Regions from separate parts of the Homo sapiens genome. Here region 1 is linked to region 2. Evidence: fine-mapped expression QTL. A gene starts in region 2. The other region holds a variant in brackets. All regions are shown on one strand. Distances are between the middles of the regions. Region 1 has its middle 64 kb from the start of LINC02285. Region 2 holds the start of LINC00523 (long intergenic non-protein coding RNA 523).

Evidence for each region. PIP is the estimated chance that this variant, and not a neighbour inherited with it, causes the effect.
Region 1: its variant is fine-mapped to the expression of LINC00523 in adrenal gland (GTEx, PIP above 0.99).

The regions. Positions count from the first base shown.
Region 1 is chr14:101,180,973-101,189,294 of GRCh38, forward strand. No RefSeq gene overlaps it. Among named protein-coding and RNA genes, the nearest start is that of LINC02285, 64 kb to the left of the region's middle. RefSeq lists enhancers at 2,143-2,776, 2,777-3,409. The variant A/G (reference allele first, on the strand shown) is at 3,421.
Region 2 is chr14:100,653,722-100,662,043 of GRCh38, forward strand. It overlaps LINC00523 (long intergenic non-protein coding RNA 523), which reads left to right and starts at 3,547. Exons shown (of 2, transcript NR_024096.1): 1 at 3,547-3,989. RefSeq lists an enhancer at 6,801-8,000.

The DNA.
Region 1 (8,322 bases), 530 kb after region 2:
ATCCCGATTCACCTTGTCCTCAAAGGGCTGTGTTGCTGGTTGCCTGCTCAAGGCCCAGGGTATGAAGAGGTGAGGGCTGAAATCCAGCCCAAGATGGCAAGGGGTGCTGGTGTTTAGTTATCACAAGGGGTGCTGGTGTTTAGTTATCAGCAAGGGGTGCTGGTGTTTAGTTATCAGCAAGGGGTGCTGGTGTTTAGTTATCAACAAGAGGTGCTGGTGTTTAGTTATCAGACTCCAGCTCTTCCCTGCTAAGTCCCTAACTCCCATACCCAATTAAGGAATAGTGTGACATGGCCCAAAGCCAGAGGCTCACAGCCACCTGTATGGAGCCTGCCTGCCCTTGTCATAGGATTGCCTGATTTTGCAAATGAGAAAAAGGATGCCTTGTGAAGTCGGAATTTCGGATAAACAATAGATACTTTTTTAGTATAAGTATATCCCACATATTGCATGAATATCCTTATATCTAAAAATTATTCATTGGTTGTCTGGGATTCCCACTTAATCAGGCACCCTGTGTCTTATCTGGTGTGCCTAAATCATCATTTCTGTCGAGTGTGATGCCCAGAGTGCTCACCATGGCTCAGAACTGGGGCCCAAAGAGGATGTGTGGGGAAGTGGGGAGACCCATCAGCCTCAGACCTGAGGTGCAGATGTGGGCATGTCTGGCTCCCCACTTCCTTCTCCTTCTTGGCCAGCTCTGGTCTCCAGATGTAGTGAGGGTTTGTGGGGTAAGTGGGGAGCTGTTTCCAGGGCCCATGGATTTGGAGGCTTCAGTGGCCCTGCTCACCACTCTGCAGAGCTTCTGCTGTGAGCTTGAGCCACTTCCTTCCTTCCCGGGCCCCAGCTCCTCACTTATAGTGGGAGGTGTGGGTGGGGAATTAAGCCTTCTAAGCCACCTGCAGGACCACCATTTAGCCAAATCACAGAGACCAGTGCATACCCTTGCCCTGACCCCAGCCCCACTCCCTCCAACCCTACCTTCCCCAAATCACTTCCATTATGAGGAACGGAGAGTGAGGGGCCAGGGGAGGTCGAAGGATGCTGTCCTCCTGGTCAGCACCTGCCCTGTGCCTGCCCTTGCCAGGGTCCAAGGACCTTCTCTTGTGACTGCACCAACAGCCTGCAGCATATCTCCCCCAGCAGAGCCCTTGAGGACCTAGTGTCTCTAAGTCCCAAAGTCAGGCCCGCCAAGGAAGGCACTCCAGCCCCTGACCAAAGCAGGGGAGACCTCAGGCAAATGCCACCCTGTTCCAGGCCTGTTTCCCCATCTGGAACCCCAAGGCTGGAACCAAGAGAGCTCCCAAGGCCAGAGAGTGTCCAGAGAGTGACCGGCCAGTGCCCACACTCCCTCAGAGGCAGACCCCTTTGTTCTCCCTGGGGGGCTCCTGTATTAGCTGTCTGTGGCTGTGTAACAAATAACCCCAAAATTTAGCAGCTGGGGACCAAAAACATTCATCATCTCACAGGTTCTGAGCATCAGGAATACCTGGATGGCTCAGCTGGGTGCCTTTGTCCCAGGGTCTGTCACAGGCTGTGATGAGCCTGTTGACTGGGGCTATGGTCTCATCAGAGACTCGACTGGTGTGGGGATGCTCTACTCCCAAGTCCATACATGTGCTATGGGCAGGCCCTGGTCCCTGGCCACATGGGCTTCCCCACAGGGCAGCCTCAGAGCATGGCAGCTTCCTTCCCCCAGAGTGAGAGATCTAATGGAGGGGGGACCCAAAGGCGAAAGCCATGGTGTTTAAAACCTGATCTTAGAAGTGATGTCCCATCATGTCTGCTTATCGTACTCATGAGAGGCCATCACTAAGACCAGCTCCCACTGAAGGGGAGGGGATTACTCTGGGTGTGAACACCAGGAGGCCAGAGTCTCCAGAGACCATCGCAGAGGCTGCGACTATGTCTCCTGACAAGTTTAAGGGATTTGCAAGATGCACTGGGGCAGGGAGGGGTCAGGTGTTCAAACCCACTCATAGACAAGAAAACCATTTCCCTGAGAGAGTGAGGCAGATGTGTGTCCAAATCACTTTCAGGATGAATGGAAGAGTCAGGGGTGGGGAACACCCTTGGCATCTTCTCCAGCTCCGTCTCTCCCTGCCCTGGTTCAGGGCTTTCCTTGCCCCCCTTCCCCTCTTTCCCTCCCTCCCCTTCCCCTCTTTCCCTCCCTGCCTACCCCTGCTCCTTCTTCCCTTCCCCTCTTCCACTATCCTCCCCCTTCTCAGTCTCTGAGTCTCTGTCCCTTTCCTTCCCCACTCCCTTTCTTCCTTTTCCTTCCCCCTGGCCCCTCTCCCTCCCTCCTCTGCATCTCTGGTCCCGGGGTCCTCCTCACTTTCTCATTTCCTTTCATTTCTAGGGGCATCTCCCTGTGCAACAGGCCCCAGGCCCAGGCTGCAGGGACAGCAGAGCCAGGCTGCTCCCACCCACCCCAAAGCCCTGCTCATGCAGCTGCCGCCAGCCCGGATCCCGCTAGGGGGCACCATGAGCTGCGGCTGCGGACGAGGGGCTGCTTTTCCCCAGGCGCTGTGGGCTTGGAGAGAAACCCTGGGCAGGAAGGGTCCTCTCTTTCCAGTCCTGGAGCCAGGCCACCTGGTGGGCAGTGCAGCCTTCACACTAGGACCGCGGGGCAGGGATGCCCGGGACCTCCGGCCCAGCCCGCCCAGGCCACACATGTGAGCGTCTAGCACAGCGGCCACCTGCAGGGAAGGCATAGGTCTCTCCCAGGAGGCTGTCAGCAGCTGGGAGGCCGGCAGCAACCCCACTCCAGGCCTGAAGTATCTGCCACCTTTGGCAGGCTCTGGGCCCCATGGAAAGGCTGAGGGGCGCTCATCCCGGGTTGCCATCCCCAGAACCGGTGTGACAGGCCCCACAAGCACGCATGTGAGTCAGCTCATGCACAGGAGAGCCTCATGGAGCCTGCCCGGCCAAGGTCCCCAACCCCAGACCCAGCAGCTGCCACTGCGACCACCCTGAGAGCTGTGACTGCACCCAGGCCTGAACACACATGCATGGCCTGAGATCTGGGGGTGTCCTCCAGAATGAGGTGGACCCAGCAGGGGAAAAGGCTTTGCAGGGAGCGGTCACAGCAGGAGTGCCCCACGTGCACTGAACCTGCCCTGGGCCCCACCTCTCTTCACATGGGTGATGGGGGGGGTGCCCCAGTTTTATGGGATCTAAGGTGAGAGCATTAAAGACGAACAGGCATGCGTGGACAAGATGTGTCCTGCTGAGACCCAGAGAAAGACATTGCAGCAGGTCCTGCCGGATCCCTACAACCCACGGCTGCGTCCGGGGGTTGCTGCATTTTTCATCGTGGAAGATTCTTCCTAAGCACCCTCCCTAGACAGGCACGCACGCGGCGTGGATGCACAGGCTTGCACCTGCTGCTCACACCCTTGTCAGCCCTGGCTACTGTCA[A/G]ACAGGAACTCTTGGGCCGATGTCAGCAGCAAAAGGAACCCCACATCTCATTGTTTCATTTTGTAATGTAAAATTCTCTGGTCAAGAAACTCTTCAGATGTTTCTGGCTATTTTTACTGCTCTCCTGTGAATTGCCTCCTTGGAGCCTTTGTCCATTTTCCTATTGAGAGTTGTTTCAATTAATTTATAACTTTTTTGTTTATTAAGGGTATTGCTCTTTTGTCTATCAGAAACATTCAACTATATTCCTCCAGTTTGTTATTTATCTTTTAATTTTAGTCTGTGTGTGTGTGTGTGCGAGTGTTTGTGTGTGTGGCGTGTGTGTGTGCATGTGCATCTGTGTGTGTGCGTGTGTGTGTGCATCTGTGTGTGTGCCTGTGTGTGTGTGTGTGCGCATCTGTGTGTGTGCCTGTGTGTATGTGTGTGTACATGTGTATGTGTGTGTGTCTTTCAGCACTCAGTGGTCTCATGATCTTACATTGGTTATTATTTTCCTTCACGGCATCTGGATTTTGCATCTTGCTTGGAAAGCCTTCCCCATCTGAGGGTCCGGTATTTTTCTTCCCTTTTCTAATGCTCTAGCTATTTGTCATTTATTAAATCTTCAGTCCCTTTAGGGTATTTGTTGGGTATGAAATAGGAACTAACTTTCACAGATTTTTGCCAGATGGAAGATAGAACTCTGGGGTCTCAGTCACCGACAATGAAGGTGTGGCGGAAAGACGTTTCCTTAGAAACTACACCCGAGGCCCCACCGATCCCGGCTTTCACCTCAGCAGAGCAGCAACCGGACCTCTGTGTCTTGTGCCAAGCAGAGATCTAAACCTCTTGCCAGCTCCCAGGCAGTTCCAGTGTGTCCCTTCCTCTTGGAGATATGCAGACCTCAGGGAAGGGGTGCCGGGGGTGCCCAGAGCCACCATGGCCCAGTCCTCCCCCCTGGGCTGGACCCTCACCTTGGACAAGATTGGAAGAAATGGAATGGCCCCTGCTTAGCTGCGGGGGCTTCCAGAGATATTCAACTGGGTCACACCCAGCAGAGTCTGCAAGAGGAGGAAGGAGGTGCTGAGATTTGCCCAGCTTCCTCCCGGGGTGGGAAGAGCTTCTCTGGCTTTCCTCCTTCCTCCAAGGTGAGATGCAAAGACAGGACATCGAGGTTGTGATCACAGCTGTGACTTGGCGGCCTCCCGTGCCCCCAGCCCCGGGCCAGCTCTTGGCCTCACTATCACCTGTCCACACAGCAGCCTGCAAGGTGGGTTCCATGATCCCCACTTTACAGAGGAGAAAACAGAGGCTCAGAGATGTCAAGCAACCTGTGCAGGGCCACACAGCTTGTAGGGAAATTGAACTCACCTCAGGAGGTGGTTGAGACGATGGAACCAGGCAATAGCAGCATAGTGACCACAAGGGTTTGCACATAGTAGGCCTTCAAACATTTAGCCACCCTCTTCTTTCCCTCCCTCTCTTCCTGGCTTCTTTCTTGGTTCCTCCCTCTCTTTCCCAGGAGACTATACCACCATCTGAAATCCATGATGACAATGACAAGCAAACTCATGCCTTGAGACAGGATACACTACAATAGAGGAAGAAACGGGAACTCATAATGGACTGGCAAGCACTATTGTTTATGGACAAACTTCCCCTTGGGAGGCAAGTCCTTAGACAGGTACCCCCAGGAGTCCCCATCCCTGAGCAGCTCCCGGTCTAACCAGAGATTCACACGGGGGAAGTTTCTACCCGTAGGAAGCAGCTCTCAGCATGCAGGGGAATCCAGAGGGGCTTCCTGGAAAAGGGGGCTCCTGATCAGATAGTCAAGGATTTGAGGCATGATAGATGCCCAGAGGAGCAGGGTCGCATGGTGGGGTCTGTCTGGGAGGTGCCTACTATTTCCTGGCTGTGTGGGGTATGCAGAGCTGGAAGGAGAGGCCACCTTTTTAAAGCATATTGAACACAAAAGCATACACAACGTACTGTATAATTTCATGTATAAAAATGTAAAAACCACTTAAAAATAGTGTGGAAAGCAGAGTAATTGTCACCCCTGGGACAGAAGGCTGCCAACCGGAAGGGAGGTGTGGTGGGAGGTTTTCTGGGGCGTTGGCATGGTTCTGTTTCTTGTTCTGGGGGATGGCTAGAGGCCTGCACCGCTACTCTGTGAAAATTCAATATGTACACCTCCAATCCATGTACTATTCCACCTGTGTATTATACTCCAATAAAAAGTTGAAGTTTGTTGAAACAGGAGCTCAGGGGATGGGAGAATTTGAAGATTATTCTGGAGGCGGTGGGCAGACCCAGGCTTCTGAGCAGTTCGTGACCAGAGCTATGTTTTCCGAGGATGAATCTGGCAGTGTGTCTTGGATGGATTAGCGGAGGAGGGGGGTGGGCTGGTGAGTGCTCAGAGACTGTCGCCAGTGCAGGTGAGAGGTAATTCACAGCCGCCCTGGGGAGGAGATGCCGTGCCACGGCTGTCTGGGGCTTCATTAAATACCAGAAAGAGAAATGAACCAATTTCACAGCCCTGGTCTGTGACTTCTCTGAGGATGTGAAGTCAAAGGCTATGCGACTCAAGGCCAGTAGCAATCCGATTAATTCCCCAGGATAAAGCCTTTAATCTAACACATAACAGCAAATTCTTGTTATTCCATTAAAAACAATACCTCAGCCCCCACGTTGGCTCCCAGGGCCTTAATGAGACCCCTTCCCTGCCCAGGAGGCTGAATTGGTCCTTTGTTCTTCACAGCATGGGGTTCAGAAGATTGCTAGTTTGGTGGTAGGGCTGGTTGGGGACATTGGCACTGATGGGAGTGTAAGGCTGGATGTGACAAAAGCCACCGGGAGTTCTGGGTGACCTCAGCTGAACTGAAAGTTGGCCTCGCTTCTTGGGAGGAGAATGTGGGGGGTCTGCTGGGGCCAGGTCGTGGCAAGGTGCATGGTAGAAAAAGCCTTGTGCTGGGAGGTCAGTGCCCTGGGGTCTGTCCAGATCCCCACAGTGTCACCAACTCACTGAGTGACAGTGGGCCAGTCTTGTCCCCTCTGGCCTCGGTCTCTTCCCAAGTGTGTTGAGAGAACTGGCCTCTTGGGAAGGCCAGTTACTCATGGAATCAAGCTCCCTGGGTGCCAGTCCCCTGGTGCTGAGGACTGAGAATGACCCCAGACAGTAATGTGCTGGTTTGCCTAAACTTCTTGGATGAAGAAGAAGTGGAGAGAACATCCCTTGGCACTTGGAAGCAGCCGGGGAACACTTACAGTGTTACGCAGGGTGTGCCCTGGCGTCCATGCTCCTGCAGTATGGTGGAGGAGAGATACGTTCCACTTGGCCCCCCTACAGAAAATGACTTTTCACCAAAGGCGGCGGCATAAACGCTGCTTATCTGCCTCCCTGGTGTGCCCGGAACTCTCTTGATTTTAACTCCGAAAGTCTTGCATCCCAGAAAACTCAGTCCCAGGCAAGCCAGGATGGTTGGTGACCCTACTTCCAGTCCTCGATAAAAAACTGGGCACCCAAAGTGCACTGAGAGCAATTGCACCTGTGATGCCTGCAAGTCAGGTGCAAAGCAGGAGATACAAACCCATCCTGGGACCAGCAGCACCTGGAGGCTGAAATCACAGCAGAGAGGGGTGCCCCTGGCCACAGATTGCCTCCCAATTCGATCGTCAGAGAGGAGGAACTGGAGGTGCTCTCAGAATCCAGCCAAAGCCCAGTTGCTGAAGAGAACCGGACTGGCCTACAGACTCTGACTAGTGTTAGGATGTTGGCTTTGGGGGATCCGAAGGACAGATGCCCTTTCTATGCTGTGGGCTCCACTGTACTCATCAAACCCTCTTCTGCTCTCCAGAGATCAGAGTTAACAAGACGCCCTCCAGGAGGAGCCAGGGAGGAACTACCTGGCCCCGTGACCCCACCTGACTTCTGTAGCCAAACTCCAGAAGCCAGAGGGGCCAAACCAGGTTAGCACTCCCACCCCCGCCACGCCCCACTACCTTGGCTCTCAGGCGTAATTCTGACTGGCTGTGTGCCAGTCATGACCTTGGCCAGCCATGGCCACAGGGCCTGGCCCACTTCACAGGGCAGCTCGGGCTCCAGCCACCTCTGCTTCCAACATGGAGACAGGCCATCAGACGGCCACCAAGACAGGTCGCAGGCCTTGGACCTGAGAAATCACTTTCGAGGTAGTTTTATGGCAAACACAATTTCTGGGGCTGGAAGTCTCACCTCTGTTAATGAGGTGTCACTGGAGGGGTGTCCAGGACAGGCTTGGATGTCTGACAGGCACACACAACACCGAAACAGATGACACCCTGTATGGTGTAAAGCCAGCTCGGACGCCTCCTGCCTAATTCCCGGTGGCTGAGGGGACGACCTGTGGGAAATAGCACAAAGCAGTGACCTGTAAAATCAGGAGCCACAGGATGAAAACATTTTGTCACTGAGAAAATATGTTTATGCTCATTAGAACAACGTTTTTTGGGCTCATGTAGAATAAACATATTGGGTCGAATGTTGCTACAAGGTCTACATTTACAAAGAGGCAAGGAAGGTATGAAATTGCGGTCAGGAGCTGGCAAGCGTGAGAAATTACAGTGGGATGAGCTTCTCGCACTGCAAATTGGAAAATTCAGAGATGTGTGGCACGGCTGCGGAGGCCCAAACTTCTAAATGAAATTTATTATTTCTGTAAAATCTGGGAACAACATCTTCAGGGATAACAAATATAGAGAAAACATGATTTCAGCCTCGATATTTGGTCTCCTTGCAGACGGTTTTCATTAAAAAGGGCTTTATAAAAATGATAAAAATGTTACAGTTTGCTAAATTAAGTCTGAAGCAGCTCTATTTAATAATCTGGTGCATTTTAATCATTTTTTGAAAAGCCTGACATATTGAAAAGAACTTCAGACTTG
Region 2 (8,322 bases):
GGTCGTTCCATGTCACCCTCCCTGCAACCTTGCAAGGTGGGTGCTATCACCCCCAACTAAGCAGGGTGGAGGCGACAGCGGAGAAAACGAGGCTCAGAGAGGCAGAGACTTGTCCAAGGCCACATAGTTGGAAGGCACCAATGTGGGGGCTTGAATCAAAACCAGAGGAAAGATATGCCCAACATTCCTGTCCCTTGGCTCTGGGAGCCCCCGTGGAGGCAGAGATGAGTGCAGGAGTGGGTGCAGAGGTTGGCTCCTCAAAAGAATGCCAGTCCAGGCTGGGTAAACGATGGGTGCTCTGAGCGGTGGGGGGTTTCCCTCCTGCTGTGGGGCTTCCTGAAGGAATCGTGGTGGGAAGCAGGGGTTCCCCTTCAAGGGGGCAGGGGAGACACTCTGGAGTGACATTTGCCACCCACCACTCTGTAATGATCAGAGTGGGAGTAAATGGAGCTGGGCCTCAGAGTAATTGGCCGGGGAACCCTGAGTCTCGGCTCGGCCCAGGGTCACAAAGGTCCCCGAGTTAATGAAGCAAACTCTCCCCAGTGTCAGAGGCCGCCTTCAGCACCCCTACAGAGGACGAAACTTTCAGCAGCAGCTTTTCAAGGTTCCAAAAAGAAAGTTGGTGGAGGGGGGCAGAAAGGGAAGGCGTTGTTTTCATGCCTCTTGCTTCATTTGCATAAGGTGAAAAAATGTTTCCATAGAAACAACTAGAGTCTGTAATTTTTGAATAACGATTTCTGCACACAGCACAACCTGTCTTTTCCAAAGGGGAATTAAGAAATTCTCAACAGCATTTCTTACCATAACAAAAGGCAAAGTTTCCCAATTCTAGGATTGCTGCTCCAGAAGGGAGGGCCTTGGCTCCAGCCCCTGCCCTCTCTCGGCCTCAGTTTACTCCTTCTGTGAAATGGGGCGAATGAGGGTGGAATTAGACTCAGCAGGGATGAAGCCGCCTGCACCGTGGAAGGGGAGGGCGGGCGCTGGAGTGAGATGGGATTCCTGTGTCGGGGCTGGGAGGCAGCAGGGCCGGGCAGCGTTGTGAGGAGCTTTCCAGAAGAGGCGGGGGCAGGGGCTGAGGACCCGAGGACCACCCAGGCCACACGGAGAGGCCCCCGCCCGACCCTGCCCCCCGGGGTCTCCTCTGCGGCGAAGAGCGTGGGTGCAGGACCCCGGCGCGCAGCGCAGCGCAGCGGACCCGGCTCACCTGAGCGAAGGTTGCGGCCTCGCTGGCCGCCTCTGCCCCCTTGTGGCCCGAGGCCACCGCAGCACCCACTTGCCCGGGGCACTGACCTGCGTGGCTGGCTCCGCCAGGGCCTGACCTCCCTCCTGGTGCCTTTGCAGAGGGGGAGCAGCCACAGGGCCTGGGGGTGGGGTTGGGCTGGGAGAGGGACCCCAGGATCCTCTGGCCACCTGCCCTCCTCCCAGGCGTTGGCACACGTGGTTCCACGGAGGGGCTCCCTGGGGCATCTCGGGAAGTGCAGATTCCCGGGCCTGCCTCTGCAGGTCTGACTCAGGAGGCCAAGAGGTGACGGCTAAAGTGGAGAGGACCACAGCGAGGCCTGCAGAGGGTAACGTGGGGGACTTGTCTGCTCCCCCATATTACAGATGAGAAAACTGAGGCCCTGCGTGGGGGGCCCCCCCTGTCCGTGGCTTCCCACCAAGGAGGCCCTGCATGTTCTGTCCATCCTCTGACTGCTCAGCGACCAAGGCAGCTGGGTGGTGGTCCGGGTCTGTGGAGGACGGTAACCGGGGGCTGTTGTCCTTGGAGTCCCGGTCTGCCTGTATTTATCCTCCTCATTTAACTGAGGGCTGATTATTGTGCTGGGACTGGAGCTGGGCAGGCAGCAGTGCCTGGTGTCTCTGGCTTAATTACAGCTGGAGGAGACGGGAGCAATGAGGCGTGAGCTGCTGGTGACTCCAACACAGGAAACGCTCCTGCAGACGTCCTTCCCTCCTCATTTTTAAGAAATACATGTACAAAGCCTCCCCGATTGAAAAATAATGACCCCACTGGATGGTGACTTTTTGGGGGGCAGCAGGGTCTGCCCTCAGCCTAGCTTCTGGAGCCCCTCCTCACTCTGGTGCTCTCCCCTTTAGCCTCCATCTCCTGACCTCCTCCCTCAGCAGGCTTCCGACTGTCCCCTGGGCTCCAGATGGCAGGGATGGGTTTGGAGAGGTGGCACTGTGAGGTGTGGGGAGGCCTGGCTCCTGCTGGTGGTCCTGAACAGAGGCTGCCATTAGGGTTACAGGTGAGACAGATGGGCACAGATGGGCAGAGCCGATGGCTCTGGAAGTTCAGGGGGTGGCCCAGGGTGGCCCATCTTGCTGGGGCTGCAGTTTCCCTGGGCAGCTGGATGTTGGCTGGCAGCACTGGGCAAAGAGGAGACAGAAGCACAGAAACGGAATCAGGCAGCCCAGCCCAGCCCTCTGTGTCCTGCTGCAGGATAGCCTCCAGTCAGGTAAAACAGGTGGTGGCTTCAGGACTTGCACAGACAGAGCATGTGCTATGTCACTGGGAAGGAGCTCACCGGGAGACAGATGGGGCCTTGGGAAAGCGGGTTCCTGCTGTGGAGCCTCAGTTTCCTCATCTGTGACACGGGGCTTTGGTGAGGGTTGCTGTGAGAATGAAGAGTGAGTGATTTGTGAACAGCCAGCTCACGGCTGAGAGGTGGAGAAAGAAGATGGGGCTGTTCTCTTCCCCAGCTGGAGTCTTGGAGGACAGCAGCTGCCCAGAGGAAATGGAAAGTTAGGTCCGAAGGCTGCTTTGAAATGGTTGGAGGCTGGTTACCCTGAACCCAGCTCTGGTTTGGCTGCTATCAGCTGGCTCACTGGTGAAAACCTCAGAGCTTTTTTTTTTTTTTTTGGTGGGAATTAGAGCCCATGATGGGTGCATGTATTTGGAAACCATAACACTCCATTGGCACATGCGAGAGTGGTTTGCGATGGAACTCAGTCCTCACAACACTGAGGAAACACAGTTGGGAGACTGAGGCACACAGAGAAGGTGGCTCACCCAGGGCCACACGGCAGGGAGATGTGGCAGCTCTGATGGGGACGTCCAGCCTGGTGGCATCTCAGCATACACAGTTAGGGGGTTCCTCTTAGAGAGAAGGAATACAAAATCCTGCGGCGGTGGATATTCAGACATGTGTGGAGTCCCAGCAAGTGGTCCATTCTATATTAGGCAAATATTAGAGACGGCAACGCAGCCAGGCCCTCCCTGCCAGGAAGTGTGGAAACCCTGAGGAATCAGCACCCGCTGTCACTCGAACCCAGGCCTGGACTCCTGCCCCAGTGCTCTTTCCACCAAAGCACCTTCCTCGAATGCACCCGGTTTCCTGGGAGTGAGCTTCTTTGCCACTGGAATGAACAAAAAATCCAGATGAGGATTTCAGGGTGGCTCTGCCCTGCCTGCCTCACACCGCCCTTTCCAGAACAGGCGGGGGAGCGCGAGGCAGGGCGGTTCTCGCTTGGAGACGGGTGGGTGGACTGGAGGGCAGAGGCAGGCTCTGGGTTCTGCACCCATTTACATATCCCCTGCGCACTGTCCGGAGCACTCCTTCCCTTCCCTGGTTCCTCAAGGCACGGCTCCCCCAGGCAGATGAAAGCTTAATAGAGTTTTGCGACATGAAAGTCAGTCGGAGGAAAGAGCCTTGAACAGTTGTGCGTGAGAGAGAGGCAAGCGCCCGAAATTATTTTACGACAAAGGCAGCTCTCTCTGCCACAGAGGCACAGAGGAGAAAGGAGCCCAGGAAACGGGTCATTTCTTTCGTGGAAAAATGGAAATGCTCTGAAGCATTTTGGGAGACGTGCTGTGAAGCAGGTGACACCAGAAGACAAGGACACTGGGGGCTCCCTGCCGGGAGGCGCAAAAAGCAACTCCCGTTCGAGGGTCAGAGGAGCCTGGATGCTAATGTCTCTCCAAAGTGACTTGGAGCCAACTGCCGGAAAGGCCATGCCCTTAGGAGCACAGGCAGGTCCCAGCTCAGGTGAGCCTGAACCTTCTGCCCCATCAGGAGGTTCCAGTGGGAGGAGCTCAGGTGGGGAGGAGTCGGAAGTCAGGATTTCATGCCTCCCTCATTGGCTCTGGGGTTCCCTTTAAGGTGGACACTCGGTGTGGGCAGTGGGAGGCAAGAGTGAAGCAGAGGAGAGCAAGCGTGGTGGTTTAGCAAAGTAAAGCAAAGTAAACCTGGAGGGAGCAAATGACTTTGTCCTGGGTGTGAAAGGGTAAGGCCCCATTGTAGGTCATTTATTCATTCAACAAACACGGGTTGAACTGTGTCTTGGGCTGGCCTCAGAGAAGCTCAAGAAAAGAAAGATGCTGTCATTGCCCCGAGGAGCCACTGTCTGGCATGCAGGCCAACTGTGACAAGCTGTGGTCCAGGTGAGGTGGGGTCTGGACAAGCCAGGAGGGGTTCACTGTGGATGAGCCAGGGAATGGGGAGAGGCCCCAGAGACGGGCTATGAAGACCAGTCTTGGGGCAAGAACAGTAGGTGGGGAGGGGAGGGAGAACCTTCCAGCAGGAGGATGCACCTGTGGCTAAAGCTTGGAGGTGCAGGGAACGCCCCCAAGCACCTGGGGCCACAGTGCAGGGTGTGGCCAGGACAGGAGTCCTGGAGCTGGACAGCCTGAGGGGCCACATGGTGCTGGGCTCTGTTCCCGGTGGGGAGGGGTGGGACTGTCCCTGTGGACAGCAGGGGGCTACTAGGGGCCCTGGGGAGTGGCAGTGAGGGCAGATACAGGATGTGGCCAGGTGGCGCTGGCTCAGGCAAGTGGGATGGGGAGGGGAGCAGAGGCTGCAGCCAGGAGGGCAAAGGGGAGGTGGCTAGGCCATGGAGGGGAGGAGGAGCATGGGGAGAGCAGCATTGGGGGAGCTCCAGAAGGCCCCTGGTGTCAGAACAGAGGGCAGACCTGCTCCTCCTCCTCCCTCCCTCTCTGCAGCTGCAGCCGGAAGGGCCTTGTCCCTGGGAGGGCTGCCTTGACTCCTCCCCTCCAGCCCAGGTGACTTCCGTGCCTCTCTGTGTCCTCCAGGGTGCTGGGCCCCTGGCCAGCCTGTGGCTCCTCCATGCCCCTGAGTGTGTGGGCAGCTCTGCGGGATGAGAGGATGTCAGGGCAGGGCCCACCCTGAGCTAAGTCCAGTTGTCATGGATTTTCCTTTGTTTATTCCATCTTGGGGTCAGACCTAGCCCAGTGCTGGCCAACCCAGCAGTTGTGCTAGCCCAGGACATATACGGGAGGTCTCATGTGTGGCCCGAGCCCACCCTGTCTCGGTCCAGGACTAGGAGGCTGAGGGTCTGGCTGGGGGCAGCATCCCTGGACAGTGGGTGTGGCCAGGGGGGCTCCTTGCCGGGGGATATGCCACAGAGCCCCGCTTCACCACTCAGGGCTGTCCCCGTCCAGTTGCAGGGGACCTGCAAAGTTTGCTCCCCCATGGGGACCTGCAAAGTTTGATGGGTCTGTGTGGGAGTCACTTGGCAAAAAGGGGACTGGCTCCTGCGAGAATTCCCAAGAGGATTCGAAATCCCTGGAGCTTGCCAGACTTCTGCTAGCTGGGGCCAGGGCACTGCCGTGACTCCTCAGTTCTCCCGCTAGGGAGATGGGGCTAAAAGTCTTGCTCTGCCCACCGCAGGGTCTTCTTGGGAGAATAAAACGAGGCCAAGCGTCTCCAGAAAGCTTGGGGCTTCTGCGATCAGGGGGTTGGGATGGAGGCCCCACAGAGCCAGTATCAGCAGAGCAGGGCAATAACCCACATTTCATAATCCTTGAACTTGGACAAACAGACACTGGGTCCCATGTCAGCAGGCCTAAGGCCGGAAGGGTGGCTCGCCACCTTCTGAAGACAGGGATCAGAGGCCCAGACAGGGATTCCGGGGCCTTGGGGCCCCAGCACCATGCCCGAGCTCCACGTGAGAAGATGAGCTCAGGCCTCCGCTCCCTCTAAGCTGGTGGGTGGGAATTTGGGATGGGATTTGTGCGAGGTGAGGAAAATTGTTTCTAGTTTCCTCCTTATGGGGCCTGAGCTGGGCCCCTGTGTCTACCACTGGGGCAGGCCTGGGCCCAGCTGTGGATAGCTGCCATGCCGGCCACTTCACCTCTGGCTCTGCCAAGCCTTGTCCCCGTGGGGCCGCCCTCCACCCCGGCTCTACTGTGCCAGAAAGGAGGCCCCAGAGGCCAGGAGGCACCTGGTCAGCCCACACCTACACCGGCCAAGTAGCAGGTGGACTTTTCACGTGGGAAGCCAGACCAAATCTCTGGGCTCCATTTTCCTGCTAAAGGGAAACAGAAAACCTGGAACCCATCAGTTGTCATTGGGGATGGAGGGGACAGAAGGGACAGGGCCACCTCAATCCTGTCCCTCGAGACCTGAGACAAAGATGTACAAGGTGTGGAGCAGGCAGCGGGACCAGGTTCACTCCCAGAAACCTGGGCTTGGTGAACTAGGGGAGCCTGAGGCTTCGGGGTAACCGGAGAGAACGAGAGAGCTTCCGCACAGTGAGGCTCGCGGCAAGTGCGCAGTAAATGTTAGCCCTGTGGCTGCCCTCCCCGGGACTCAGTTGACCCGTCTCGTCAAACAAAGAAGTCACTCAGAGCATTGGTTCACCCAGGTCCAGGGTGCTGAGAGGGCTGTTCTAGGGGTCTCTGGGTCCCCCATGCCTCCCTTCAACCAGGGAAACTCCCTGAAAATCTATTCTACATTTTGGGCTTCTGGATAAGAATTCACGGGAATAAAGGATCCCACAACTAAAATACATTTTGTAAAAAGGCTGGTTTGGAGACGCATGTGCATACAAAGGGCAGCCCGCAGCCCTCCTGCTCCAAGTCTGTTGGCGGAACTTAAGCCCAGGCAGCCTGTGTGCAAGGGGAGGGCAGCCTGGCTCTGTAGGAGATGGCTGGTTTCAGGGTGGCCTTGACCTTACTATCACGGAGTTCAGTGACCTCTTTGCAGACCTGCTCTGGGCTCAGCTGGGATTCCAGGGACTATCAGCAATTGGAGGGGAGTGTCCCTCCCCACTGAGAGAGGTGGAGAAGGACAGGAGCAGACAGCCCTGCAAATGACTCATCCCTGCCCTCCGTGCCTCAGTGCCCTCATCTGTGAAATGGGTATAATAGGAGTGTCCCTCTTCATAGCGTTGCATGGATGAAATGAGATAATGCATCTAGAGCTCTTAGTGTGGGCGGCCTGGCATGTAGTAAGTGATCAATTAATGGTGGCATGAGTCACTGTTACTCATATTATTATTCATATCGCAGTGCCCTTCGGCTTCTTCAAGAATGTATACTGAGCTGGCCTCACTCCAGAGTTGTTTACTTGTGCTTGTCTTCACAAGGTAATTGAGAAGAGGCCAAAGAGAGCAAGGGCCAGCCCTCCGGCCGCCTGCTTCCCAGGCCGGACTGTTTCCTTCTCCAGGGCCACCTCTGCAAACTCTTCAAAAGAAGCAAGGTCATACTCCCTAGTCTAAGCAAAGGAGGAAACCAAAGGCAGCTTTGATATGTCAGCTTAGGGAACAAGCTGACGGCACGGATCACAAGCGCTGGGTTCTGCCTGAGCAAATGGCTCTAAATGACGTACTTCAGGCTCTCCTCTTAATGTGCTGGGTGTTTATGATTTTTTAAGAAGTGCCTCATCAAAAAAAATGCAATAATGATGCTCCTAACTTAACAGCAGCACTTTAGAAGAGATGAATTATTCACATCAGAGATGAAACAGGGACTCTACAAACTGGGCCAGCTGAAGCAGTCCCTTTCCCGGGAACTATTTTTATCTTTTTTTTACAGTCTTTCATCTTGGGAGACACGCGGTTCGCAATGTACGGGGAGCCCATTGCTTGGAGCCCAAGCTGGCAGGATGTCAAACCTGAAGTACTAGGCGTCTTGGAGCTTCTGCCTGGAGTACGAAATCCGAGGAAACTGAAGTGTGGAAAACGGGGCAGTAGCAATGTGAATGAGGATGATTGAGGGGTGCTGGGGACTCCCTGTTTCTTAACCTTGGAGGGCTCTCAGAGGCATGCTTCTCCATCGTCGACCCAGGGCACCATGGAGCTATCTTGCCCTTTCTTTTCCTGACATCCAATGATTCCCCACCTAATAGTGCATGGAGCTCTTGGGAAAGAGTGTATAGATTCTATATGGTGTGCATGGAGCAGCTGGCCCTGAGGAAGGAAGGGATTTCATTATTGCAAGGCTCAGGGGCAAGTGTGGACTAGCAGGGTCCCAAACTCTACAGGCCTTGACAGTCCAACATTGTCACACTCAACACTCGCCCATTTGCTTTAAAAAGCACCCTAGACCTGCACTCTCTGATATAGCAGCCATGAGCCACA